4 linked regions of the Homo sapiens genome follow. The protein of the gene in region 2 interacts with the protein of the main gene of each other region in a pairwise test. Each region holds a gene or a part of one and is shown on either strand. Other genes may lie near its edges.

What was found.
Region 1: the proteins of ZNF620 (region 2) and MYOZ3 interact in binary tests that used the Homo sapiens proteins (3 or more experiments, as listed by UniProt).
Region 3: the proteins of ZNF620 (region 2) and SNAPC3 interact in binary tests that used the Homo sapiens proteins (3 or more experiments, as listed by UniProt).
Region 4: the proteins of ZNF620 (region 2) and SART3 interact in binary tests that used the Homo sapiens proteins (3 or more experiments, as listed by UniProt).

What each region holds. Positions count from the first base shown.
Region 1 is NC_000005.10:150,656,679-150,664,283, reverse strand, and holds the start of MYOZ3 (myozenin-3), read right to left. Parts: upstream 3,034-7,605; 5' UTR 2,857-3,033; intron 1,344-2,856; 5' UTR 1,343-1,343; coding exon 1,282-1,342; intron 1-1,281. Other genes in the region: SYNPO (synaptopodin), read right to left, coding at 7,197-7,605. UniProt on the Homo sapiens protein: Myozenins may serve as intracellular binding proteins involved in linking Z line proteins such as alpha-actinin, gamma-filamin, TCAP/telethonin, LDB3/ZASP and localizing calcineurin signaling to the sarcomere.
Region 2 is NC_000003.12:40,516,010-40,519,240, reverse strand, and holds the end of ZNF620 (zinc finger protein 620), read right to left. Parts: coding exon 2,378-3,231; 3' UTR 505-2,377; downstream 1-504. UniProt on the Homo sapiens protein: May be involved in transcriptional regulation.
Region 3 is NC_000009.12:15,418,001-15,425,888, reverse strand, and holds the start of SNAPC3 (snRNA-activating protein complex subunit 3), read right to left. Parts: upstream 3,014-7,888; 5' UTR 3,010-3,013; coding exon 2,696-3,009; intron 1,981-2,695; coding exon 1,903-1,980; intron 1-1,902.
Region 4 is NC_000012.12:108,530,147-108,537,179, reverse strand, and holds part of SART3 (spliceosome associated factor 3, U4/U6 recycling protein), read left to right. Parts: intron 1-394; coding exon 395-472; intron 473-607; coding exon 608-666; intron 667-1,711; coding exon 1,712-1,821; intron 1,822-4,845; coding exon 4,846-4,958; intron 4,959-5,899; coding exon 5,900-5,976; intron 5,977-6,869; coding exon 6,870-7,033. UniProt on the Homo sapiens protein: U6 snRNP-binding protein that functions as a recycling factor of the splicing machinery. Promotes the initial reassembly of U4 and U6 snRNPs following their ejection from the spliceosome during its maturation.

The sequences.
Region 1 (7,605 bases), on a different chromosome or scaffold from region 2:
GCTACAAAATCAGGGTAGGGGAAGAAACTGGACATCAACAAAAGGAGGCAAGAGCACACAAAATAGGTTAAAAGGATGCCACATATGAAGTCATGAAATATGACTGACTCCTTAGCACGCTGAAGGCAAATGCACAAGTCCTAACTTAGGTCCCCTGAGTCAGAATCCTCAGGAGTAGATGCTGGGACTCTGTATGCTTAACCAACATCAAATCATTATGATTCACAATAAAGCTTGAGAACTCTGACTTAGTTGAATTAATTTTTTTCTTTTTCTTTTTTTTTTTTTTTAGAGACAGAGTCTCCCTCTGTCACCCAGGCTGGAGTGCAGTGGCACAACCGTAGCTCACTATAGCCTCCAACTCCTAGGCTCAAACGATCCTCTTGCCTCAGCCTCCTGAGTAGCTGGGACCACAGGCATGTGCCACCATGCCTGGCTAATTTTTTTTTTTTGTAGAGATGGAGTCTCACCATGTTGCCCCGGCTGGTCTCAAACTCCTGGGCTCAAGCAATTCTTCCACCTCAGCCTCCCAAAGTGCTGGGATTAAAGGCATCAGCCTCTGTGTCCAGCCCCTAAATTAATTTTTAAAATACCTGAAATCCTCTAAAGTAGACCAAATAAACAGATTCCAAAATTGTATCAAGAGTTCCTCAAGAGGTCTTCTAAAATTGATAAAAATGAATTTAAACTTTTTTAATGAAATGATAAAAATGATTTACTCATTTGATGAATCAGCTTTAAGTAGAAAGTTTTGTATTCAAATGGGCAGCCTGCTCTTCCCACCCTGCTCCACTCTCTCGACTCCCCTGTCTTCCCACCCTACTCCACTCTCTCCACTCCCCTCTCTTAGCCATGGGGCCCAGCCATCCTGGGCCACCCAGAGGCCTCGGTGAGACCCACAGGAGTAATAGGCAAAGGCAAGTGTGTGCAGAGCTTGCAGCCACAGGTAGGGCTGGAGTTGGGACCAGAGTCTTCAGAGCTTAATTTGGGGCTGAGGTGAGGCCTTAGATGAAGCCAGGGCCAGGGTCATTTTAGAGCCAAGGCCCAGCCTGGGACACTCAGCCTCAGCTCCTGGGTCTGTGGACAGATGGGCAAGACCCCTCCCAGTGCCTCAGGGAAGCTTCCCAGCCTAGGCAGCAAATTCTACAGGCACTCCCTCAGAGCTGGCCTGGAGCTCACACCTGTCTGCCCAGGCCTGGGGCCAGCAGGCCAGAGTGAGTGCAGCCTGGGAGCAAGGAAATGATGGAGTCTGAGGAAGGCATGAGGCTAGAACCACCTTACCTGGTTCAGTGAGGTCCCCCATGGCAGCCATCACTGGCCCCTTCTGCTCCTTGGGGATCATCCTGTGGAGGAGAGACCCCCATAAATGGACCAGGCTGCCTCCATTTCTCCCCAGACCTCCTTCCAGTCTCTGGTTCACCCTGCCCCAGTCCTGAACAGCTTTAGGCCAGCCCCAAATCACAAGCAAGGGATGTCTGAGCTGGAAGGGACTTCAGGGTCTCCGTGCAGAGGAGACTGAGGCCCAGGGAACGAGAGGGAGGTGCTCAAGTTTGCACGAATCTATTTTCATGTTGCTAGGGAAGCACTGTCTCTTCAGGGGTGGTTTCTAGGGCCTTTTCCCAGCTCTGGCATCCTGATCAGAGGGAGAGTAGGTGCCAGGGGCATCCGGGTGGGGCAGGCAAAGGTCTCAGGCACTACTGTCATCGGTTGACCCAGGAGAGTCCTAGTCCAAGGCTGAAAGAAGTTGGAGGTTTAAGTTAGGGGAAGGGGGAGGATGGACTAGGTTGGGGTTACACTGGGGTCTGCAAGGCTGGTGAGCCCCTTTCATCCTTGGCACTTGGCCCTGACGCTTGAGGGCACAGGCTGGTCCAACCAAGCAGAGAGAACCATCCCCCGTCCTCCCCATCTCCCCGCTACTGGGCTAACTTCCGTGGTGTTCTCTTCTCCCTCGTCCCTTCTCTTCCTCCTGTTCCATCCCCCTATTTGTATCTCATGGCACTTTCAAAGAATCTTGGAAGAGATTTGCAAATAAAATGAGGTCCAGAGCCCTTAACTTGCCCAGGTACCTTAACTTGCCCTCTGGAGAAGAGGCAGAGCCCTTGAGCTCCTCGACTGACCACCCACCTGGGTACCCTTCTCCTTTGCCTCCAGGTTTTCCTATACTCCTTCCTTTAGAAAACAATCTGCCTTCATCTGTATCCCCAACACCGACAAGGGGCCCTGGGAGTCAGTGGGCACTGCATTGTGCAACTGGAGTCTAGTGGGTGTCCCTGGCTTTCTCTGTAACTGCGAACAAGTAGCTTTCCAGCTCTGCACCTCAGTTCCCCCATCTGTAACAGTAGGGGGTTAGGCTAAATCACAGAGATCCATGGATGGGCTTTAGGGTGTTCACAAACCCCCTAAAACTATACGTAAACATGAGTGTGTCTACATGCATTTGGGGTGAGGGTCATGGGATGATTGAGAATGCCTCGATCACAACCGTTTAGGATTCCACAGTCCACAGATCTGTTTCTTGATAAACACTCCCTTTACAGAAATTCACAGATGCTGGGAAGGGTCTCTCATTTTACAGAGAAGCTGCTTCCCTCTACTGCCTAAAAATCCCAAAGTCCTGAGCAGAGCCATTACCTATTCCCCACCTTTAATCCTAGCCACACCCTCCCCATTTAATGCAGGGTAACCTAGAGCTTAGAGTTCCTCTCCTCCCAAACCAGGATCGAGGCTTGCATGGGGCCCCAAACTCCCTAGATCCACTGCAGGGCCCTTCCTCTCCGGGGGAAGGAGCTCTGGGGATTGGCTCACCTCCTCTGCCCACTCCCCTGAGTTCCCCAAGCTCCCCTAGGATGCTGGTACCTGAGAGGATGGGACCACAATAGGCAGGAGGGAATCTTAGACCCTCAAGATTAACACCTCTGTCGGGAAGCTGAGAGTTGCGTGGCGTCCCTGTAGGCAGTCAGCGGTCAGCAGTCAGTAGGCAGCGAGCAGGGTGTCCCCTGCAGCCAGCTCTGGCTTCAGCTGATGAGAATCATTCCTGCCTTGCCATGGGTCACAGCCTTATTTCGGGCTGCAATAGGAGCTGGAGCCAGAGGCTAAAAGCACCAGACCCTAGGGAAGACAGGTGCCCTGGCAACAGGCCTGTGCAGACAGAGGGCTTGCACCCACGTGTACACACACACTCACATATGCACACACCAAAGTCACCTGGAAATGTTGAGGGTCAGCTGCTGGTAGCTTCCGCTTGTTAACTGTTATATCCTTAGTGCCAAGAATGGTGCTTGATAGGAACTCAGCAGATATTTGTCGAAGGAAGGAATGGATGGATAGATAGATGGATGAATGAATTGCTCCTCAATATCTTTGCTTGACTTATCCTTTTCTTCCTTCCTTTCTTCTCTCCTGCCTTTCTTCTTCTGCCTCCTTCCTGCCTGCCTTCTTTTCTCCCCTCCTCCCTCCCTCCCTCCCTCCCTCTACCTTCTCACATTCCCTGAGCCTCTCTCTAAGGACTGAAAATAAATAAGGCAGGGCTCTGTCTTCAAGGAGCTCAGCCAGGTCAGATTCAGACGGGTAAACAAGCTTTGGGGAAGGCTCTGGGAGAGCCCAGGGGAGGGAGTTACCAGCTCAGCCTGGGGTGGGGGGTGAGAAGGCTTCCCAGAGGAGGACACACTGGAGTTGGGCCTTGAAGGATGAGTGGGAGTTCACTGGGCAGAGAAGGGGCATGGCAGGCAGTGGACATGTCACCTACAAAGATGGGTAGGGGGTTGGCAAGTAGAGCCGGAGCTGGGGGCAGTGCTGAGAGATTAGCCCAGACAGTGGGGGCAGCGGCCAGATCCCAGCAGGCTTTCAAAAGGAAACTGTGTTTATAAAGGGTTGCTGACAAGATTAAAGTGGTGAAATGGAGTGATCGGATTGGCATTTTCCAAAGATATCTTTGCTGCCATGTGGGAAATGGGTTGGAGGGGGCCAGACTGGAGGCAGGAGGACCTGACTGTCACCAGGGGTGGCTGGATCAGGGCAGTGACAAGGAGATGGAGAGGAGAGGGAGTTGAGGGTTATTTGAAGAACCCTTGGGTCTTGGTGAGGAACTGGATGTGGAAGGTGAGGAAAGGGAGTCCCACTCCCCTGTTTCATGCTTGGGTGACTGGAAGGGGAGGAGCAGGAGGGGTGGGGGCAGACACTGAGGTCAGTTTTGGATGAACTTTGAGGTGTCGGGGGACTGGGATGAGATCACCAGTAGGCAATGGGACACTGTGCTGCAGTGAGGCCCCAGCCGAAGATAAAGATTGGGTCCAAGGCACACACTCCTGGGGAAGGGTGGGCCTAGCAAGGATGGGCTGGGTGCAGGGTGGGGACCACCGGTGTCTGTGTGCTGGCAGACTATCCTGGGGTGTATTTCTGACACCTCTCAAATCAGAAGCCTAGATTCTGCTGTCCACCACCCTGACCTTAGCTTCCTGGCCCTCGGTGGGCCTGAGCTTCTAGAGAGGAAGAGTGAGGTGTGTTCCCAGGGCAAGCTTAGCCTCACCTGGGAGCAGGATCACAATCCCCTTCTCTGGCCAAAGGACACTCCTGCCAGGAGAGGATGCCTCATGGCCCGAGTCCTTGCCTCACTGGGGCTGCCTGGCTCAGACGGGACCTCTTACAGTGGCGCCTTTCCTGCCCTGGCACCCCCACCTGCCATGAGGAAACAGCCTCAGAGCACAGAGCCCTGACCCAGCTTGGCCCTGCCCACTCTGGTGATAGTGCTCTGTGGTCAGGGCCTGGACAATACCACCCTGAGACATTACCTAGACCCACTCTCCCCATTATACGGATGGGGAAGCTGAGGCCTAGAGAAGGAGTGGGCTCACCCAGGGTCACCCCGCTCGTCCATGACAGGACCAGGACTGCAGTCCAGGTACTTCTATGGCCTCAAGTTGTCCGTTGTTCCCATCTCTCCCCATGGCTGCTTCTTCCCAAGCTCCCATCCCATATGTCTCAAATATTCCCAGCCACCCAGAGTCCCATGGACTGCTCCATGCTTGGGGAGAAGGGAAGGACATCAGACACAGCTGAAAATGACACAGGAGGCAGAAGAATGCAGGAAGCATTTATTGAGGGCCAGAGCTGCATTCTACAAGAGGCAAGAGGCAGGACACAGGCAATCTCTAGTGGGTTAGAGGAGAGGTTGGGGAGAGGGCAGTGACAATGAGAGAACAGCCAGGCGCTGGCTTGGGAACTGCCGGTTTCTCAAGGCTGCCTCCTGCTAGTCCTCTGGGAAATGCAGGTAGAAATGGATCCTCTATGCTACTGCCTCAGCCAGAGGCCTGATGGTGTCCCTTCCCTGGGAGGGGCCCTTAGCCCCAGTCTCCTGTGCTACAAGGGACCCAGCAGCAGGTAGGGGCTTTGGTAAATATAGTCACTCATCATTAACTGAGTAAGAGCACCTTCTCATCTTCACAGCAGCAGGAGCATTCCTGAGGCCCAAGGAGCCCTCTAAGGTCACTCTTTCATTCCAAAGCACCCTGTCCCAACCCTATCTTCCATACTGACCTTAACTCCCTCCAGCCTCACTTGGGGGTTCCAGATCTAACATCACCCCGGTAAGTCCCAAACCCAAACTGTCCCTCACCTTTAGCAACATCCTGGTATCCTTTCACCTACATACGTTTGATCCTCAGCCAATTCCATACCCCCAGCTGATCCTGAAGCTAATATTCTGAACCTCTAGAAGGCTCTACCAGCCAACTCTGGAAACTACAGAACTCAGCCATATTCCTCCCTGAGTCCCCCCTGGGGACCTGAATCACAGCCACCAAGGTTTAGGGAACCAGTGAGGGCCTGCAGCCAGGCTCCCCCAGGTCACTGGGCACCAGGCACTAGCTAGGTCAGAGTGCACTGGGGAAGGGATGGGGCAGGATAATGTCTACTTTTCTGGGCACGATATGGACACTGGGACTGAGGTCTGACACTGAAGAAGGGGACATTTCCAAGGGGACCAGAAATACAGGCAGACCCTAACTTAACACCCTGCTCACGTACCCAAGCTCATCGGCCCCTAAATTCAAGCCCAACTAGCCCACCACCACCACCCACCCCCGACTTCCTAATATCATGGAATGCATTTCAAGACTGGAAGAGCCCTCAGGGGTCATCTGAGCCAATCCTGTCCCCTGCTAGAATCTCCTCTATGCATCCTGGCCATGCTTTTCATATTTCCCGTAACAAGTAACTCTTTGTCTCTCTCTTTCCCAATAAGCAACCCCAAACTGAGGGCAATCAGGTAAAGTCACATGGTAGCTCTGTATCTCTTCTCTCCCCAGTTCAGCTTTGAGCCCAGAACCTGCCATGAATGGGCCCAGAAGGAACAGATGAGCTGGAGGCCCAAGTCCTGGGCCTAAGGGAAATCACTGCCTTATAATTCTCTTATGGCTGCAGATAAGATGTCCTGGACAGTCTGAACTGGGATGGAGAAAGTAGCATGACAGGGACCCGGGGAGAATTTTCCTGCCTCTTCCCTCCAGAGGGGATAGTGGGACACCTTGAGCTGGCCTGGGAGACCTCTCTAAAGGTCATTGTGATAAAAATAGAGCTTGTCTGGGAAGGGATGGAAAACAGCTGCTCCTGCCTGGGACTTGGTGCCAGGGAGCCGGATGGTCAGGCCAGTGCCTGGACATGCGACACAGGCCTAGGACCTTCTGAACACACCCCGCTTGCCAGACTCCAGACAGCAGAGCCAGGAGGGGAGGGACGAGTATGGAACCCTGAAGGTAGCAAGTCCAGGGGTCCATATACACACTGCCCCGCCTCATCCAAGGCACTAACTAGTGTGTGTGTGTGTGTGTGTGTGTGTGTGTGTGTGTGTGTGTGTGAGAGAGAGAGAGAGAGAAAGAGAGAGTGTGTGTGCATCGGTGTGTGTACTGATGGGAAGGGGAATTTTGACGTTTGTGGATTGCCTTGGCCAAAGCCACCATTAAACAGATGGGAAAGCTGAGGGTCAAACAAGGAAGGGTCTTACCCAGGGTCACACAACAGCTGAATGAGAGCAAGGGCTAGAACTCAAGCTTGCGTCCCTAACCCATCCCCAACCCCAGAGCTCTCCTCTGCTGACCCCTCATCTCTGGGGCTGCCCAAAGAGGCCAGACCCTTTGGGTCCCCCAGGTCTAATGAGCCTTCTTCTGGCTCTGCCCTCCCGGGGTGGGGTCGGGGGTGGGGCTCTAGGTGGTGCAGGAGGCCTCGGCGGGGAGGCTGCCACGCTTGAGCCGAAGGCTGCCATTCCACCCGCGGGGACAGATATTGTAGCCCAGGATGCCTGGAGACTTAGCCCCGGAGTCCTCGGAGTCGAGGGACACGTCGGAGTCCGTGGGCGAGCGGCGGTAGAGGAAGGGCCTGGGAGGCGCGGGCAGCGGGCTCCGGGGACTGGTGCAGGACGAAGGACCGGCGGGCAACGGGCTCCGCGGGATGGGCGCGAAGGCTGCCCCCGGCACAGCAGCCGAGCCGGGGCGGGCGGGCTGTGGCGAGCGCATGCGCGGGGGCGGGGGCGGGGGCGGGGGCGGGGGCGGTGGCGCCCTCGGCGGGGAGAAGGGCCGCGGGTTCTCGGCGCCCGCCGACCGCGGGGAGGCGCTC
Region 2 (3,231 bases):
TTTAAAACGTTTAATCTATACCAATCTACCTAATGACCTAGCCATTCCACTCCTGTATCAAGATAAATGAAAGCATATATTCTTACAAAGATGTGGACACAAATGTCCATAGCAGCTTTATTTGTAATAGCCAAAAACTGAAAACAACCCAAATGGCCATCAACAGGTCAATGAATAAACAAATTATGGCATATCCATACAGTGGAATACTACTCAGCAATAAAAAGGAATGAACTATTGATATATATGCAACAACATGGGTGAATCTCAAAGTAATTATGCTGAGTGAAAGACACCAGACCAAAAAATAAAGGAAAATTAATCCAAGTGACAGAAAGCAAACCAGTGGTTGCCTGTGAAGGGCCAAGAGGAAGGGATTATGGAGGGGTACAAGCAAAGTTTTGGGGTGGTGGCTGATTATTATCTTGAACTGTGATAATTGTTTCACTAGTATATTGATAAGTCAAAACTTACCAATAGGATTATAATAATAGGTAAAAATTTTTTTTTTTTTTTTTTTGAGACGGAGTCTCAATCTGTCACCCAGACTGGAGTGCAGTGGCATGATCTTGGCTCACTGCAACCTCTGCCTCCCTGGGCTCCTGCCTCAGCCTCCCAAGTAGCTGGGACTACAGGCACATGTCACCCCACGCCCAGCTAATTTTTTGTACTTTTAGTAGAGACAGGGTTTCAGTGTGTTAGCAGGATGGTCTTGATCTCCTGACCTTGTGATCTGCCCACCTCAGCCTCCCAAAGTGCTGGGATTACAGGCATGAGCCACTGTGCCCGGCCAATAATAGGTAATACTTTTATTATATGTAGTCACTGTTTGAAACACTTCTACAAATAATGCATTTAATCCCCAACACAAACCTATGAGGTAGATTAACTGTCATCCTCATTTTACAGATAAGGAAACTAGTGCAGTTTTTGTAACTTAACCAAGGACAAACACCTGGACTCAAACCAAAGTCTGCCTGGCTCTGTATTATTAATCACTACTCTCTGCTTCCTGCAAAATCAAGCTGGCTGCCAGAGGGGATGCTAAAACCTAACACATTTACATCTTCCCTCATTTCCACAGGTAACAGCAATAATGGTAGGTTCTTCCATGATCATAAAAAATAACTAGATGGAATTGCAAGAAAATGCTGCCTGCTTTGAGGTCACTTGAAACAGCAATGAGAATAAATTTAAGACAAATGGTGCCTTGCACCTGACTCAAAGAGTATATACATCCTGACTTTTGCAAAGGCACAGAGTACAACTGTCTAGTGAAGACAAACTGAAGAATAAGTAGGGTGGGTGGACACTGAACCTGAGATAGGTCTCTGGAAGTTTGCACCCTACTAGGAATGTCTTCCAAGATGCATTTGGCTCCACATGGACAGGGCCCGTTTTTGAATTTAGGAGACTTCTGACGTACGGACTGCAATAGGGAATCCATATATCTGTCTTTTTATTTACTGGTTTACTCCTTGTGTAGTGTTGCACATATGAGAAAGGATGCATGGGAGATAAAGATTTCAGATTTAAAGGGTCTGAAATGCCTTTATTCTATACTTATACTTTGGAGTATAGAATTGCAGGGGAAAACATTTTCCATGAGAAGTCTGAAGGCATACACATTGTCATCTGACTTTGAAGGTTGCTCTTGAAAAATCTAATGCCATTTTCATTTTTTACTGTTTTTGAGACAAAGTCTCACTCTGTCGCCCAGGCTGGAGTGCAGTGGTGCGATCTCAGCTCACTGCAACCTCTGCCTCAGGGATTCAAGTGATTCTCCTGCCTCAGCCTCTCTAGTAGCTGGGATTACAGGCATGCGCCACCATGCCTGGCTAATTTTTGTGTTTTTTTTTTTCAGGAGAGACGGGGTTTCACCATATTGGGCGGGCTGGTCTCGAACTCCTGACCTCATGATCCACCCGCCTCAGCCTCCCAAAGTGCTGGGATTACAGGCACGAGCCACCGCGCCTGGCCCCGCTTTCATTTCTGATCTTTTGTTTTCTCTCTCTAGAAACTTTTTAGGGTCTCATTTTTTCTCCATGATCCTCTTATTCAAACTTGGTGTTTTCATAATTCACAGCAATTTTCCTTAATGTAGGTTTCCCTTGAATCCATCCTGCTGGGCACCCAGCATGTCCTTTAAATCTGGAAACTTACATTTCCTTTTATGTTTCTAAGTTTGTTTGTTTGTTTTTTGGTCTTCTCTAACCATAAAGAGACTTCATGTTGGGGAAACAGGTTCAAAAAACTTAAAGAAGAGTTCATGATGAAAGCCAAGTGTCTAACCAGGAAGGACAGCGAGGACACTGATAAAAAGCATGAAAATAAAGAGAAAAAAGGAGAGGCACAGTGGGCCTAACTATGGATAGCCCTATGCTTGGACAGGTGTCTTCTGAGTGTGTAGTTTCTGATGCAGAATGAATCTTCCACACCAGCTGAAGGTTTTACCACACACTTTACACTCATAAGGTTTCTCGCCAGTGTGAACTCGCTGGTGCTGAATCAGGGTTATTTTCTGATTGAATGCCTTCCCACACTCCTTACATTCAAAGGGCTTCTCCCCAGTGTGAATTCGCTGATGCTGAGTCAAGGCTGTGTTGGAGCTTAATCGTTTTCCACACTCTTTACATTCATAAGGTTTCTCCCCAGTGTGCATTCGCTGATGGACAGTGAAACTTGAGCTGCAACTGAAAGTTTTCCAACATTCGTTACATTCATAGAGCTTCTCCCCAGTGTGGAACCTCTGGTGCTGGAGGAAGACAGAGCTGCTACTGAAGGCCTTGCCGCACTCCTTACATTCATAGGGCTTTTCTCCAGTGTGGATTCTCTGATGCTGAATCAAGGCTGTGTCTGAACTTAAACCTTTTCCACATTCTTTACATTTAAATGGTTTCTTTCCAGTGTGAATTATCTGATGCCGAATAAGTAATGAGTTATATCTGAAGTATTTTCCACATTCTTTGCATTCAAAAGACTTTTCACCAGTGTGACATTTCTCATGTCGGTGGAAGTCTGCCATTTGAATGAAATATCTGCCACATTGTCCACATTCATAAGATATCTGACCACTAGGATTTGTCTGATTTGTAGTGAGTTGTGTGCTGACGCTAATATTTTTTCCTAATTTCTCAAACTTCTCTCCATTCTTGACCTCATAGGCCTCATGGTGCCTGGCTGAGGTATCTGTGAAATGTCTCCTCTTTGACTTTGTCTTAATTATCCAAT
Region 3 (7,888 bases), on a different chromosome or scaffold from region 2:
ATTCCATCTCAAAAACAAAACAAAATGAAAACAGCAAGGTCCACTCCTTAGAGGCCTTTGTGAGCCACTACAGACTCAGGACTTCAGCCTAAGGGACATCAAAAGGTTTTAGGCAAGGGAGTGACAATCAGATGTGCATTTTAGACAAATACAACTAATCAATCAACAATAGTTACAGAGCACCAATTGGAGCAAGGCAGTATAGTAGGCTTGAGAACAATACACAGATGGGAGTTTGGACTCTCATTGAGCCTTCAAGGACTTTAGAAATGTTAAGAGTTTAAGGCAGTATAAATGCATCTGTTTCCTAAGGGAAAGATGGGTTGTGGTAATCTGGAAAGGAATCTTTGGGCTTTTAAAAAAGTGGTATGGGCAAGGTGTGGCGGCTCACGCATGTAATCCTAGCACTTTGGGAGAACGAGTTGGGCAGATCACATGAGGTCAGGAGTTGAAACCAGCCTGGCCAACATGGTGAAACCCGTCTCTACAAAAAATGCAAAAAAGTTAGGCAGCCGAGGGTGCAGGCACCGGTAATCCCAGCTACTCCGGAGGCTGAGGCAGGAGAATCGCTTGAACCCGGAGGCAGAAGTTGCAGTGAGCAGAGATCACGCCACTGCACTCCAGCCTGGGCAACAGAGTGAGACTGCATCTCAAAAAAATAACGTAACATAACATAACATAGAAGTGGTATGTTTCAGATGGGAGAGAGGCCACATGCATCCTGAGCCATCTGAAAGAGAAAGTGGTTGAAAATAAATCTGGAAAGGCAAATTTGGGATATATGTGGAAGGCTTCAAATGTCTAGCTAAGGAGTTTGAAATTTTTCCATATAGGAGATGTAGGGCCATAGACCATTTTTAAGCAAAATGGCTTGCTCAGGCGACAGCATGATGGATAAATCAGTGGGAGAAATGACTGTACTTATCAAAGACACTTAAGAACCTTGCACAGTGCTCCAGGTGTTGCTGCTGTAAAAGTCAGCAGTAGGGACCAGGGGAACAGATTTAGCAGTTATTATGAAAGAAAACCCAAGTAGAGTTGAAATGACTGCCTGAATATTTGAGGGGGATAATAGCGTAGGATCAAGAACGACAGAACATAGCTGAGGTAGTATGAAATAAGTGGACTATAAATTGGAAATTATAAATTTCACTATTACATGCACAATTTCTCTATATTATCATACAACAGTGCCTCTCAAAGAGTGGTAGGCAGACCAGAATTCATCTATGACCTATTTGTTAACCAATCTGTACAGAAAATGACAGTAAGCATTTAGAAACTTCCATTATCATTGAATAATTTTGTCTATTGAATTTAATTAAAAATTTGAACTTATATTGTGTTTGTCTTTTTTAATTCCATTTTTCTAGTAATTCTTTTTATAGTATTTTATCAAAGCATAAATCTGTCAAAGATTAAAAATTTTTAAAAACAAGAACTGTCCTTTACCACAAATAGTTTGAAAAACACTGTCAGAGTATTTAGGTTGCCCCCCAGATCTAAGTAGATTACCTCTATAAACAAACATTCAAAAATATTAAAAAATAAACACAAGTTTGAATATGGACTGAATATTATAGATTATGTATTTACGGTTTTCTTAGGTATAATAATACCACAATAATTATGTAGGAGAATGATACTTTTAGAAGCTATATGCTTATGTATTTACGGGTAAATTATCATGTCTAACTTACTGAATGGGGGATAGCAAAATGAAAAAACACACAGCAGGCATCCCATACACACGGCTAAAGTAAATATGGTCAAATATTAAGAACAGCTGAATTTAAGGGGTGGGTATACAGACAACAATCAATACTGCACTTTCAACTTTTCAAAACATAATGTTGAAAAAATGTTTAAATAAATAGGTCATAAAAACCAAGTCCTCCATACCCCAAAGTCACCAGGTCAGTATTCTCCGGAATGACTTCTGGATCCTCACCGTCCTCAAGGCATTTCAGTTTATCAAGGCTAAAACAAAAAGGAAAAGCAATACTTTAAGGTCGACTCTGCATCTGGTTCACAGCGAGTTAGGGTTGTTTTCCTAAATACATTACTGAATTACGAAGTCAGATAAAATCCAGCAGGCGGCTCAGAGAGGCCAGAACTTAAGACAACGATTTCTGTGATTATATTTTATAATGAAAAGGCCGATGAAGGCAGCCAGTACTGTTAAATGGAGAAAGAGATTAAAGTTATTTTTATATTTTCATCCCCAAATAAGGCACTTTTAAGAAATATTTCAGTAACAGAATACCCGGAAGGTCCCCAAAAGAAACCAGTTAGTCGGGGTTTTAACACTCCTCTGATGAAGTCTCCCGCAGCTTCACCATTACTCAGGTTCCTCCATTGTCAAAGTGTCTGTCAATGGCAGGTACACGTCGCTGTTGCCCTGATTGCTTTTCTTTATTAACAAGCACTCTTAGAATAAGCAAATGGAAAAACTAGTCTTTGATGCAGCTGTCTTGTCCCTTTGCTCCAACTCGTAGAAACTGTGCATTCGGGTCCCAGGACTTCTCCTGGTGTCCCAGGAAGGCTCCAGCGGGTTGAAAGCTTTAAAGGGTAATACTCCTAGCCCAGGTCTAAACCACAGGCCCTTCTCAGGGATGAGTCCCAGAGGAGCGCACGAGCAAGGCTGCACCCTGTTTGACCCCAAGCTGCAAGAGCCCCTTTGCTCCGCACTCACCCGCACACCGCCCTCAGCTCAGCCGCCGCCTCCAGGCTGCAGTCCAGATCCCTGGCCACCGCGGCATCCTCCCGGTCGGAGTCAGCTGCCTGGCTCCCAGGCAGAGCGGATGCCGGCGGCTCCCTCAGCGACAAGTCCCCGGCCCCGCGCAGACGGCCCCGCCACAGCTCCCCAAAGGCGCCCACATGGAAAGCGCGCGTATTTAGCTCGGGAAGCTCATACTCTGGAAAGTTGCAGCCGCCACTGCCGGAGACTGGGTCCTGCCTGCCACCCACCCCGCTACACGTAGGGCCACCTCGGCTTCCTTCAGCCATGTTCGCCCCACTCCTTCCCCTGCAAAAGCCTGCAGATCAAGGCCTCGCAGAGCGTGATGGAAGTTGTAGTTGCTTGGGGCGCCCGGCCGGCGAGCGGCGAGGCGGCGCGGGCAGGGCATCAGAAACTACATTTCCCGGCAGGCCATGGGCAGGCCCGCCCCAGGGCGCGGCACCGCGAGGCTCTACGTGCAGGGCGCAGCATTGTTCTCCGACCCGGGCGGTGCGGGAACCGTTGCGGCTGTCGGTTAACCGCAGCGGGTGGGGCTGGGTTTCTGGTCCCCGAGTTACGTAGCAACTGTCTCTGCCCGGTAGGGCGGCCTCGCCAGGCGCTTAGGCCCCGTTCCTTGCGGCTTTCGGACTAAGGGGTGCAGGGCTTTTTCTTGACTGGGGTTCAAGGACTGCTCTGCTGCCTGATTGCTTTAGAGCCTAAGAAACAAGGAGGGCGAGGGCCGAGACCAGGGACACGACCAGCCCTCCAGATCTGGTTCTTTCACAAGCTCCGCAGAGGCCCCATGTTGGTGTGCGTGTGCAGTAGTGTTTCAGAGCGTCTGTGTATCACACGCTACATGATTAACCCTAATGTATGTTTTTAATGTTTTTAAAAATTACAACAACCTTTCCGGATAGGGCGTATCACCCCGTGTTGCTGTTGAGGAAGGATTTACCTGCGGGGAAAATAGAAGCAGGATCGGAACTCAGTCTGGCTTCAGATGGAGCTCTCTCCATTTCTCAGAGGCCCTGAAGGATACAGCAGGACATACTATTTATTTATTAGACTGTAATCACATGCCATATAATTCACCCATTTGAAGTGTTCAGTGATTTTTGGTATATTCACAGGCTTGGGCAACCATCACCACTATTTGAGAGCATTTTTACCACTCGAAAGAAGAAACTTGTACTTTTTAGCTATCACCCCTGATCCTCCCAACTCCTCCAGCCCTAGCCAACCAAGAACCTACTTTGTCTCTCTAGATTTAACTAATCTGGACATTTAATATAAACGGAATTATATGGTCTTTTGGTGGCTGGCTTAATGTTTACAAGGTTTGTTACAGGTAGTTAGGCATGAGCAGGGCAGGAGAGGGCTCTTCCCTCACCCACTAGGAATGTGGGGTGATGCTTAGGCATTTATCACATTGCCTCTAAAAGTGATAAATTGGCAGCCGGTGCCAGGGAGAGGCCATTTCCTGATGGCCCACACCTGTTGCACTAAAGTGCTCGTTGAATGCAGGTGACAGGGAGAAGCAACTTCCTGGGCATATGCATTAAGAGACAAAATCGGGGAGTATGACCTTTCAGGGGGACTCTATCGGAAAAGGGAAGAAAGCCTCAGATGGGCACGCATACAACTTCATACATATTGCGCTGTGCTCACTTCCCAAGGGTAAGGAGGGCACTGCGCATGGAGGCAGCCCACCCTAAGGGAAGAATCATGGGAAAGGAGCCAGCCTGTAAAGTCCTAGGATCGAGGTCAATATCACAGTTGACCTCAGTGACAGCTTGGGACTCTTCCGAGCGTGCTTTCCTTTCTTTCCTAAAGGCCTTTTAAATAAGCTTCCACTCCTGCTCTGAAACTTGCCTCAGTCTCTTTTTGTGCCTTATTGCCCCTCGGTCAAATTCTTTCTTCTGAGGAGGCAAGAACTGAAGTTGCTGCAGACCCATACAGATTTGCCCTGGTAACTTGGATACCTGCCACCTGTAACACGTTCATCCATTTTGTAGTATGTGTCAGTACTTCATTCCTTTTTTGGCTGAATAATATTGCATTGTATGTATATGCCACATTTTATTTATCAAAAAGTTTTTACCTTTTGGCGTTGCTATGAACATTCATGTACACATTTTTGTGCAAATACGTTTTCATTTCTCTTGGGCATGTGCCCAGTAGTATACAGTCAGCCCTCCCTATCTGTGGGTTCTGCATCCTCCAATTCAACCAACCACATATCAAAAATTACAGTATTCCCAGGTTGCAGAACCTGAGGATAAGAGGAATTTTCCTATGGGCGGATTCCACAGGGCTGACTGCAAGAAGAGCATCTGTCAATTTTGGAGTCCACAGGGGTCTTCGAAACAGTCCACCCTGCAGATACCAAGGGATTTCTGTATTTATGGAACTCTATTTTCAACTATTTGAGGAACTGCCAGATTTTTTTAAAGTGGCTGTCCCATTTTACTCCCCTCCCCAGCAGGATTCTCCACATCCTTGCCAACACTTATCTGAACTTTTTATTATAACCGTGTCAGTGAGTGTGAAATGGTGTTTCATGACTTTTTATTTGCATCTCCCTAATTATATTGATGGAACACGTTTTCATGTGCTTATTGACCATTTGCATATTTCTTTGGGGAAATGTATATTCAAGTTCTTTACCAATTTTTAAATAAAGTTATTGTGTTTCCATAGGAGCTCTGGTTTTTTTTTTCTTTCTTTTTTTTTTTTTTTTTTTTTGTTTTGAGACAGAGTTTCCCTCTTATTGCCCAGGCTGGAGTGCAATGGTGCGATCTTGGCTCACCGCAACCTCTACCTCCTGGGTTGGAGCGATTCTCCTGTCTCACCCTCCTGAGTAGCTGGGATTACAGGTGCATTCCACCACACCTGACTAATTTTTTTGTATTTTTAGTAGAGATGGGATTTCATCATATTGGTCAGGCTGGTCTAGAACTCCTGACCTCAGGTGATCCGCCCACCTCTGCCTCCCAAAGTGCTGGGATTACAGGCGTGAGCCACTGCGCCCGGCCTTCTGGTTGTTTTGTTGTTGTTTGTTTGTTTGAGATAGTGTCTTGCTTTGTCACCCAGACTGGAGTGCACTGGCACAATCAAGGCTCACCGCAGCGTGTCAGGCCTCTGAGCCCAAGCTTAGCCATTATATCCCCTGTGACCTGCACATATACATCTAGATGGCCTGAAGCAACTGAAGAACCACAAAAGATGACATTCCACCATTGTGATCTGTTCCTGCCCCACCCTAACTGATCAATTGACCGTATGACAATACACCCTCCCCGCCCTTGCGATAACGTACTTTGTAATATTCTCCCTGCCCTTGAGAATGTACGTTGTGAGATCCACCCCCTGCCCACAAAAAAATTGCTCCTAACTCCACCGCTTATCCCAAACGTATAAGAACTAATGATAGGCTGGGTGCCGTGGCTCACGCCTATAATCCCAGCACTTTGGGAGGCCGAGGCAGGAGGATCACAAGATCAGGAGTTCGAGACCAGCCTGGCCAATATGGTGAAACCCCTTCTCTACTAAAAATACAAAAATTAGCTGGGCGTGGTGGCAGGTGCCTGTAGTTCCAGCTACTTGGGAGGCTGAGGCAGGAGAATCGCTTGAACCTGGGAGGCAGAGGTTGCAGTGAGCTGAGATTGCGCCATTGCACTGTAGCCTGGGCGACAAAGTGAGACTCCGTCTCAAAAAAAAAAAAAAGAAAAAACTAATGATAATTCCATACCCTTTGCTGACTCTCTTTTCAGACTCAGCCCGCCTGCACCCAGCTTTATTGCTCACACAAAGCCTGTTTGGTAGTCTCTTCACACTGACGCGTGTGACACAGCGTAGACCTCCCAGGCTCAGGTGATCCTCCCATCTTAATCTCCTGAGTAGCTGGGACTACAGGTACGCTGTCATCACATCCAGTTAATTTTTTTATTTTTTTAGAGAAGAGGTTTCACCATGTTGCCCAGGCTGGTCTTGAACTCCTGGGCTCAAGTTATCCTCCTGCCTTGGCCTCCCAAAGTGCTGGGATTACAGGTATGAGCCACCATGCCCAGCTGGAGCCCTGGTTTTTATCAGTACATTGTTGTAGGAAATATCTATCGTTTTTGTCAGCCTAGTATTGTTTATTAGAGCTGACCTTCCCTACTACTTTTGATCCTCCTGGGGCTGCCAGTCATAGAACCATTCCCAATCTGGCCACAGTGGTTGGTCCAAGGATGATCAAGTGTCTCAAATAGAGCCAATCGGAATCCTCCTGTGGGGTTTTATCTATAAACCAAGAAGCCCTTTATCCATTCTAAGGACCTAATAATGTGTCCTAGACACAGACCGTTCCTGCCAGTGGAAGAGTTAGAAGGAACAGAGGCAAGAGTTTGAACAAGCAAAGGCAGAAAATGGAGAAGATAGAAGTCAAGTGACTTGGAGCTACTGGGGCTGAGGCCATCTGCTCTCCTGTATTTGCCATTATGTAAAGGAGGCAAAATTTTACCTCTACTCTCTTAGGATTTTTCAGCTGGGCCTGAGAATTAAATTGACATAAGATGGAGCAACAGGAGAAAAACATGCAAATTAATTTCATACAAGTGTTATGTGGCATAGGATCCTTCATAAGGAAATGAAGACCCAAAGAAACAGTTACAATTGAACACTTATAAACTGAATTGGATAAAGAGTTAGTGAATTATGAAAATGTGACAAGGCAAAGCATACAAGGATAGGGTAGTTAATTGAGTGGAGAAGTGACTAGAAAGCTAAGAGTTAGTTTAACAAGGTTGGTTTGTACAGATTTCCCTTAGCCTCAACTTCCTGTCCTTGATGATAAGAATGATGTTTTCCTTCTGGGTATAGGGAGGACACCTTTCACATGGGAATTTCATCTCCTGCTTTTAAGAAACAGAAGAAAAGTCAGAGTGAACTCCTTGCACCTGCTGTTTCCCAAGTGATACGGCTCAGATGAGTGGAGGAACACGAGGGTTCTTGGTCCTCGTGCCGGCAACATGGACACACATGGAGTGGTTTTAAGGAGCGGAGAGTTTAATAGGCAAGGAAGGGAGGAGACAGAAGGAAGAAGGTCCCCAGTAGAGACAGGGGGAGGGGGGCTCCAAAGCCAAAAGAGGAGGTCCCCACCTGCCACGGATACCAGCCAGGTATATA
Region 4 (7,033 bases), on a different chromosome or scaffold from region 2:
TCTTTGTACCTCTGTGGGATCCTTTGCCCCTTCATGTCCCCCCGAAAACAACCAGAAAACCCCTAACTTGTACTTGCACACTCATGTCAGCTGTCACCTCATACAGGTAGCCTTTAGCCATTCTCTTGTTTGCCTGTGTCACCCCAGCTGGGGGAGACTCCCCCCCACAGCACCCTGTGTTTGCCTTTTTCACCACGCTGTCCATGCTCTATTCTGTTCAAATTTCTTTCTCCCCAACTATGTGATGAGGGCAGGAATTGGCAATTTTATTTCTGTGTCCCTTGCATGATGCCAGGTACATAGTGGGTCTCCAGGCAGTTTCAGCATAGGATAAAAAATAAAACAAAGCCAGGCTATGTGGTTTCCTAAAGCCTTTTTTTGCACTTTCCGTTAGACTCCAGTAAAGAGCTGGAGGAGTTGAGGGCCGCCTTTACTCGTGCCTTGGAGTATCTGAAGCAGGAGGTGGAAGAGCGTAAGTATGCCCCAGCCTGTGGTTTTGCCCAGTTGTATTTCCTTGTCTGTACTATTTCCTGGTTGATGTACCTTTTCAGCCAGCGACTATCTGTCTCCAAGTTCCTTTCTAATTTTACTAATTCTGTTTTTGAAGGTTTCAATGAGAGTGGTGATCCAAGCTGCGTGATTATGCAGAACTGGGCTAGGATTGAGGTAAATGTTTTTGACACATCTAGCACTTTCATCCATCATTGTTTAATAGCATCCTATTAAACTTTAATTAAAATTGAGTCAGAATCCCAGATAATGGCCTAAGCTCTATAAGGATTTATGTTATTACCTAGGTAATGGTCTAGGCTCCACAAGGATTCATGTTATTTACCTAGCTTGACATATATTTGTAAATATGTTGGTGAAAATATTAGCTCCCAGCTAGAAGTTGTGCAGTAAATGTTTAGATGCTAGGTATTCACTCGTTTACTTCTGTCTCTGCCTCTTTGCTTCATTTGTGAGAGCACAGTGAGCGTGTACTGTTTGTCAGCACTGTACTAGGTGCTGTGGGAATAAGACAGATAAAATTCCTTTGCTAGTAAGGCTTCTATCTAATGTAGAAGACAGATGATTTGACAAGTAATTAGAGGATATGATGACTTGAATGTCATTACTGGGTCAGGGACACCAAGGTCAGTAAGACACGGAACCTCCCTTGATCAGCAGGTAGGATTGTAACAATTCTAATCATGTTTTCTCCTCGGAGGGAGCGTCAGATAGAAGAAACTAACATTTGTCAGGTAGTTTTTATATGGGATGCTTATCTTTTAACCATTTTAAAGATGAGAAAACTGAGAATTACAGGTTAAGTAATTTGCCCAAGTCACAGTTTGTAAGTATTAGTAGCAGAGTGTGCATTTAATACTAGATCAGTCTTTTTTTTTTTTTTAACATTGTCTCTCAAACACTTGTAGTTAAGCTTGATAAAAATAAAAAACGTGACTATCTAGTACTGTCGAGTAAGTACCGTGCGCTCCCTCTCTCGGTTCTCAGGAAACATAGGTAGATTAGCTTGTGGCTGCAGAAAGGCTCAAGTGTTTGGGCTGGGTCGTTTACCACTGGAGGGAGGCCTGGGGAATGCCCAGGGACATCTGTAACACTAATAGTTGTGGGGTGCTTTTTATGTGTGTCTGTTGGAAGTGTGTTGTATGATGGGTGTCGACGTCATAAGGTTCAGGTCTCCTAACAGCCTGCTGATGCACTTTAGGCTCGACTGTGCAATAACATGCAGAAAGCTCGGGAACTCTGGGATAGCATCATGACCAGAGGAAATGCCAAGTACGCCAACATGTGGCTAGAGTATTACAACCTGGAAAGGTAACTGATCTCGGGGTGGGGAGGGAGGCAGTGCTTGTCAGCTGTGCACCTGTCTTCACTCCTGGCTGACTCCTACCAGCTTGGACTAGCTCCTTAGAACTGGGCTGTTTTCTTTCATTCTGTCTCTTTCAGTAGTGGGTACATTTTTAATGGGCAGGGCTAGAGAACCAGACATGATATTTTGTGCCTGGAACTCTTATAGCCATGCATTTCTTTTAATTTGTTTTTGTCTTGATTTTTGGGCATGATATTTTATTTGACCTTTTGGAGCTATTTGTTTTTTATATTTGCTTTTATAGAAAAGTAGAAAATACTAAAAAGCTAAGAGAAAAAAAACTCAAATTACTGACCCAGTCATAACCATGACCCATTCTTTGAGACTTTTCTATGTTTAAATTTTTTTGTAATGAAAATGCAATTATAGCATGCATGTGTTACAAGCCTTTAAAACTATTTGAACGAAATAAGATAGGCCTAACAATATTTATAACATGGGGAAAACATAAAGAATGTGACCAACTTTTCAGTCTGTCTTGAACGTTGTTCATTGCATAACATTGCTACATTGCTGGGTTTTCTTTTTTGAAGATTTTTTCCCTATTTAAAAAACACTGTGTGCCCAAATTAGAATATTTACAAAAATATGTGATAGAAAGCGACAGTTTCTTTTCTTTTTTCGGGGGAGGTGGGGAGTCTCACTCTGTTGCCCAGGCTGAAGTGCAGTGGTGCAGTCTCAGCTGCAACCTTGCCTCCTGGGTTCGAGCAATTCTTCTGCCTCAGCCTCTTGAGTAGCTGGGATTACAGGCGTGCACCACCACACCTGGCTAATTTTTGGATTTTTTTTTTTTTTTAGAAGAGGCACAGTTTCACCATGTAGGTCATGCTGACCTCAAGTGATCCTCCTACCTCGGCCTCCCAAAGTGTAGGAATTACAGGCATGAGCCACCATATCCGGCTAAACGTGACAGTTTCTTACAATCCCACCCCAGAGATAACCACTGTTAAAGCTTGTTGAATATCCCCCTAGATCTGCAGTTCACAATTTTTTTGGTCTCAGGATCCATTTTCCACTCTTAAAATTGGAGGATCCCAAAAAACTTTTATGTATGTGAGTTATATCTATTGATATTTATAATTTATAAATTGAGAAATCTAAAAAACATTTTAATTTATTTAAATATAACAAATTATCTAACATTAATATCTTTTTTGAGCAGTGACTGTTTTCCAGACCCCAAAATAATATAGTGAGAAAAGTGGCAGTGTTTTCTATTTTTGCAAATATATTTATTTGCACATTATTCTGACCTAGGAGAAGACAGCTAAATTCTCATGTCTGTTACTGATTCTGTCTGTTGTGATCTGTTGTTTTCATTGAAGAGGTTAGGAAAGAAAGGTATTTTAGAAGCATTTTCAGATAATTGTGGGTATTCTTCTTTCATACATATTATAGCAAAACTTCAGTGTTGCATGTGGAATCTGAAACCATATTGACAGAGTCTGTTACAGTAATACCCATTTGTCTATTTTATCTTTTACTTGATGCCACAATTCTACGACATTATTTGGAAAAATCCCAATTCACTAAATCATGCAGCTCTTCCAATGTTGACATATTTCATCCTATAGTATTAAAAAATCGTATTTGTTCATATCTGTATTGATCTTAGTTGAAAAGTATTTTAAGTAGGAAGCTGTCAGACTTGTGGTGGCAGATACAAGTTTTCCAAAATTCTAATTTTCACTTGAAAGCTTGAATTCTATCACATGCAACAAATAATGTCAGTGGTTTTCCCCAGAGTGGCAGCCTCACTTTGTTAATTTTCAAAAATGTCTGCCAAATACCCAGGTCTGAGTAACTGACCGTGGTTTGTCACTCAAGTTTCCTTTCAAGTAAAAATGGTGTCCTTGAAAAAAATGACTTGATTAGCTTGCAACTCAAACAGTAATATGCTTTTTTTTTTTTTTTTGGCAATAACCATTGTACTTCAGTATGCAGAAGGGCTTTAAGTGTACTTAGTATTTCATCACACAGTGCATTAAAAAGATTTCTACTGCCTTGATTTGTGCTAAGGGCCACCATTACTTGTGCACTGTCTTGAAGATGTCAACACAGTGAAAAAGTCCAGTAATGTCTTGGTATTATTATAAAAGGAGTTTTGACTTTGCAGGGCCCCTGAGAGGCTCTGGGAGATCCTCAGGGGTACGTGGATCTTACTTTGAGAACCAGTGCTCTGAATTTATTCTGAGCATCATAATATGTATATATAATTATGTATATTTAAAATGTTTTAAAAACAAATATGAATACACTGTTGCATAACAGTTATGATTAGCAGAATTGTGTAGCTGTTGTGATTAGCAGTGTACAAAAAGGATCTGTTTGCGACCAGCCTTGCCAACCTGGTGAAAACCTGTCTCTATTAGAAATACAAAAATTAGCTGGGTGTAGTGGTGGGCACCTGTAATCCCAGCTACTCAGGAGGCTGAAGCAGGAGAATTGCCTGAACCTGGGAGACAGAGGTTGGAGTGAGCCGAGATCGTGCTATTGCACTCCCACCTGGGTGACAAGAGCGAGACTCCCTTTCAAAAAAAAAAAAAAGATCTGACTCTGGGTATGAAATTTGACACTACCCTGGATTCATAACTCTCCTGTCAGTAGGACGCCATAGTAAAATTTCCCTGGGGACTGTATCAGGTTACAGAGAGCTGTTGGACTCCCCCGCCATGTGCCGCACATGTGAATGCTGTAAAGGCAGAATGCTGGTTGCAGATCACAATATCAGGTACACTTTCCAGTAGCCCCTACATGGCTGAGGGAGAGAGTGCTTCAGGGAAATACTTCGTAGGTGACTGTAGAGACTCTGGAAGGAGAAAGCATCATGGATAGATCTGAAAGCTAAGGTCTTCTCAGAAGCTAGAGTTACTGAAGAGTGAGTTTCTACCTGGGAGAAGACGGCCTCTCCCTTCGAGTGCCTTCCACTTTGTGTCCTGGTGGCAGCAACTTTTTGTTTTCTGCCTTAGAGCTCATGGTGACACCCAGCACTGCCGGAAGGCTCTGCACCGGGCCGTCCAGTGCACCAGTGACTACCCAGAGCACGTCTGCGAAGTGTTACTCACCATGGAGAGGACAGAAGGTGGGACCCCCAGCTCTCTTCTGGCTTGGAGCCTAACCCATTTGCTGTTTGGTCTCAAGTAGGAGCATCTGGTTACAGTCTGGGGACAGACTGTGTTTATGCTGCCACCTTAGGTGGTGCCCTATGATTAGACTGTCACAAGTGTCCTGAAAATGAGTCCTCCTGCAGCTCTTCTCAAATTCTGCAGCTACAAGGAGGACTCTGTGATGTCACTGTAGCACAGGGTTCTAATTCTCTGTGGGGGGGACTGTGCGTTATACAATGTTTAGGGGCATCCCTGGCTTCTAGCCCTGAAATGCCAGTAGCAGCTTCACCACCACAACCAAACATGACAACCAGAAATGTCTCTTAACATTGCCAAATGTCTCTTGATGGGCAGGATCCCTCCTTTGAGAGTCACTGTGCTCTAGTACAACATCTATCCAACAAAGGAGCTTGGAGAGGCAAATGGCTCAATGTGTCCTTTGCATCCCTTGTTAAATTTCAGAGCCTTCAGTGTTAGCTAGAACCAATAGAAAAATAATGTGAACTTATCTGTGGGTATTGGTCTGGATTTTGGGTATGGACCCCTCAGAACTGGCTTGCAAAGACCACCAAAAAATAAGAAATAAATGCCTCAACATTTGAGTAGCTCTTAAAATTCTTCAGTCTTAATATAAATGTACTTTTGCATTAGAACGTTCGTTTTCATATTCTTTGCCATTTAGAGCCCTTAATAGATCATATTCTGGTTTTCAAGTCTCTCCTGAAAGGAGAGGGACATTTTAAACCCACTTAGAAGGACTATTTGAATTCTGAACTTCAAGCCTACAGGGATTACATTTTCTTATTGTTTGATGGGAGAGATCTCTTCTGGAGGTACAGAGAAATTAAGAAAAATTTATGTGATTGTATCCTTCAAAATCCTAAAGAGTGAAAGTTTTGCTTCTCTTTCTTTCAAGGTTCTTTAGAAGATTGGGATATAGCTGTTCAGAAAACTGAAACCCGATTAGCTCGTGTCAATGAGCAGAGAATGAAGGTAATGACAATGTTTGAAGTCTTTGGCACCTCTGGTAGCTATTTTGGCTCAGTTTGGTATGGATGTTTCTTGTCAAGATGTTTTACATTTTCCTAAGTGTCTTTTACTCAGTATTAATTATAAAATATTTAGATCAATGCTTAAACCTGTCTTGTGTCATTTTTACATTGTTCTAAAACATCAGCCCCAATATTAAGTACTTGTTTCATTTAGTGAGGGAATTTTGGCTCTAAAATTTACGAGAATTGATGAAAAAGAATAAAGAAGAGCCTCACTTAGCCTAGTGAGTGGAACATGAACACCCCAACTTATTTAGGGCTTCAGTTTTATGGATTTTTTTTTTTTTGAGACGGAGTCTCGCTCTGTTGCCCAGGCTGGAGTGCAGTGGCATGATCTCGGCTCACTGCAAGCTCTGCCTCCCGGGTTCACGCCATTCTTCTGCCTCAGCTTCTCGAGTAGCTGGGACTACAGGTGCCCGCTACCACACCTAGCTAATTTTTTGTATTTTTTTAGTAGAGATGGGGTTTCACCATGTTAGCTAGGATGGTCTCGATCTCCTGACCTCGTGATCCACCCATCTCGGCCTCCCAAAGTGCTGGGATTACAGGCGTGAGCCACCGCGCCCGGCCAGTTTTATGGATTTTTTTGCCTTCCTTTTGGTGAGTAATGATTAGGGTGAGGAAATTGCTAATGTAACAGAGACATCAGATCCAGAATTCCAACGAACCTGAATGAGCCCTGGTGTGGAACAGCCGTGAGCCTGTCCACGTTTTTCTCCTGATCTCTGCTTTTCATTAGTAATGAATTTCCACTCCTTCTCCCCTTTCATGACAAATCAGTACAGTGAATGTAATTGCCACATCCAGCGATGCATCATCTTCCCACTTTTCTAGGCTGCAGAGAAGGAAGCAGCCCTTGTGCAGCAAGAAGAAGAAAAGGCTGAACAACGGAAAAGAGCTCGGGCTGAGAAGAAAGCGTTAAAAAAGAAGAAAAAGATCAGAGGCCCAGAGAAGCGCGGAGCAGATGAGGATGATGAGAAAGAGTGGGGCGATGATGA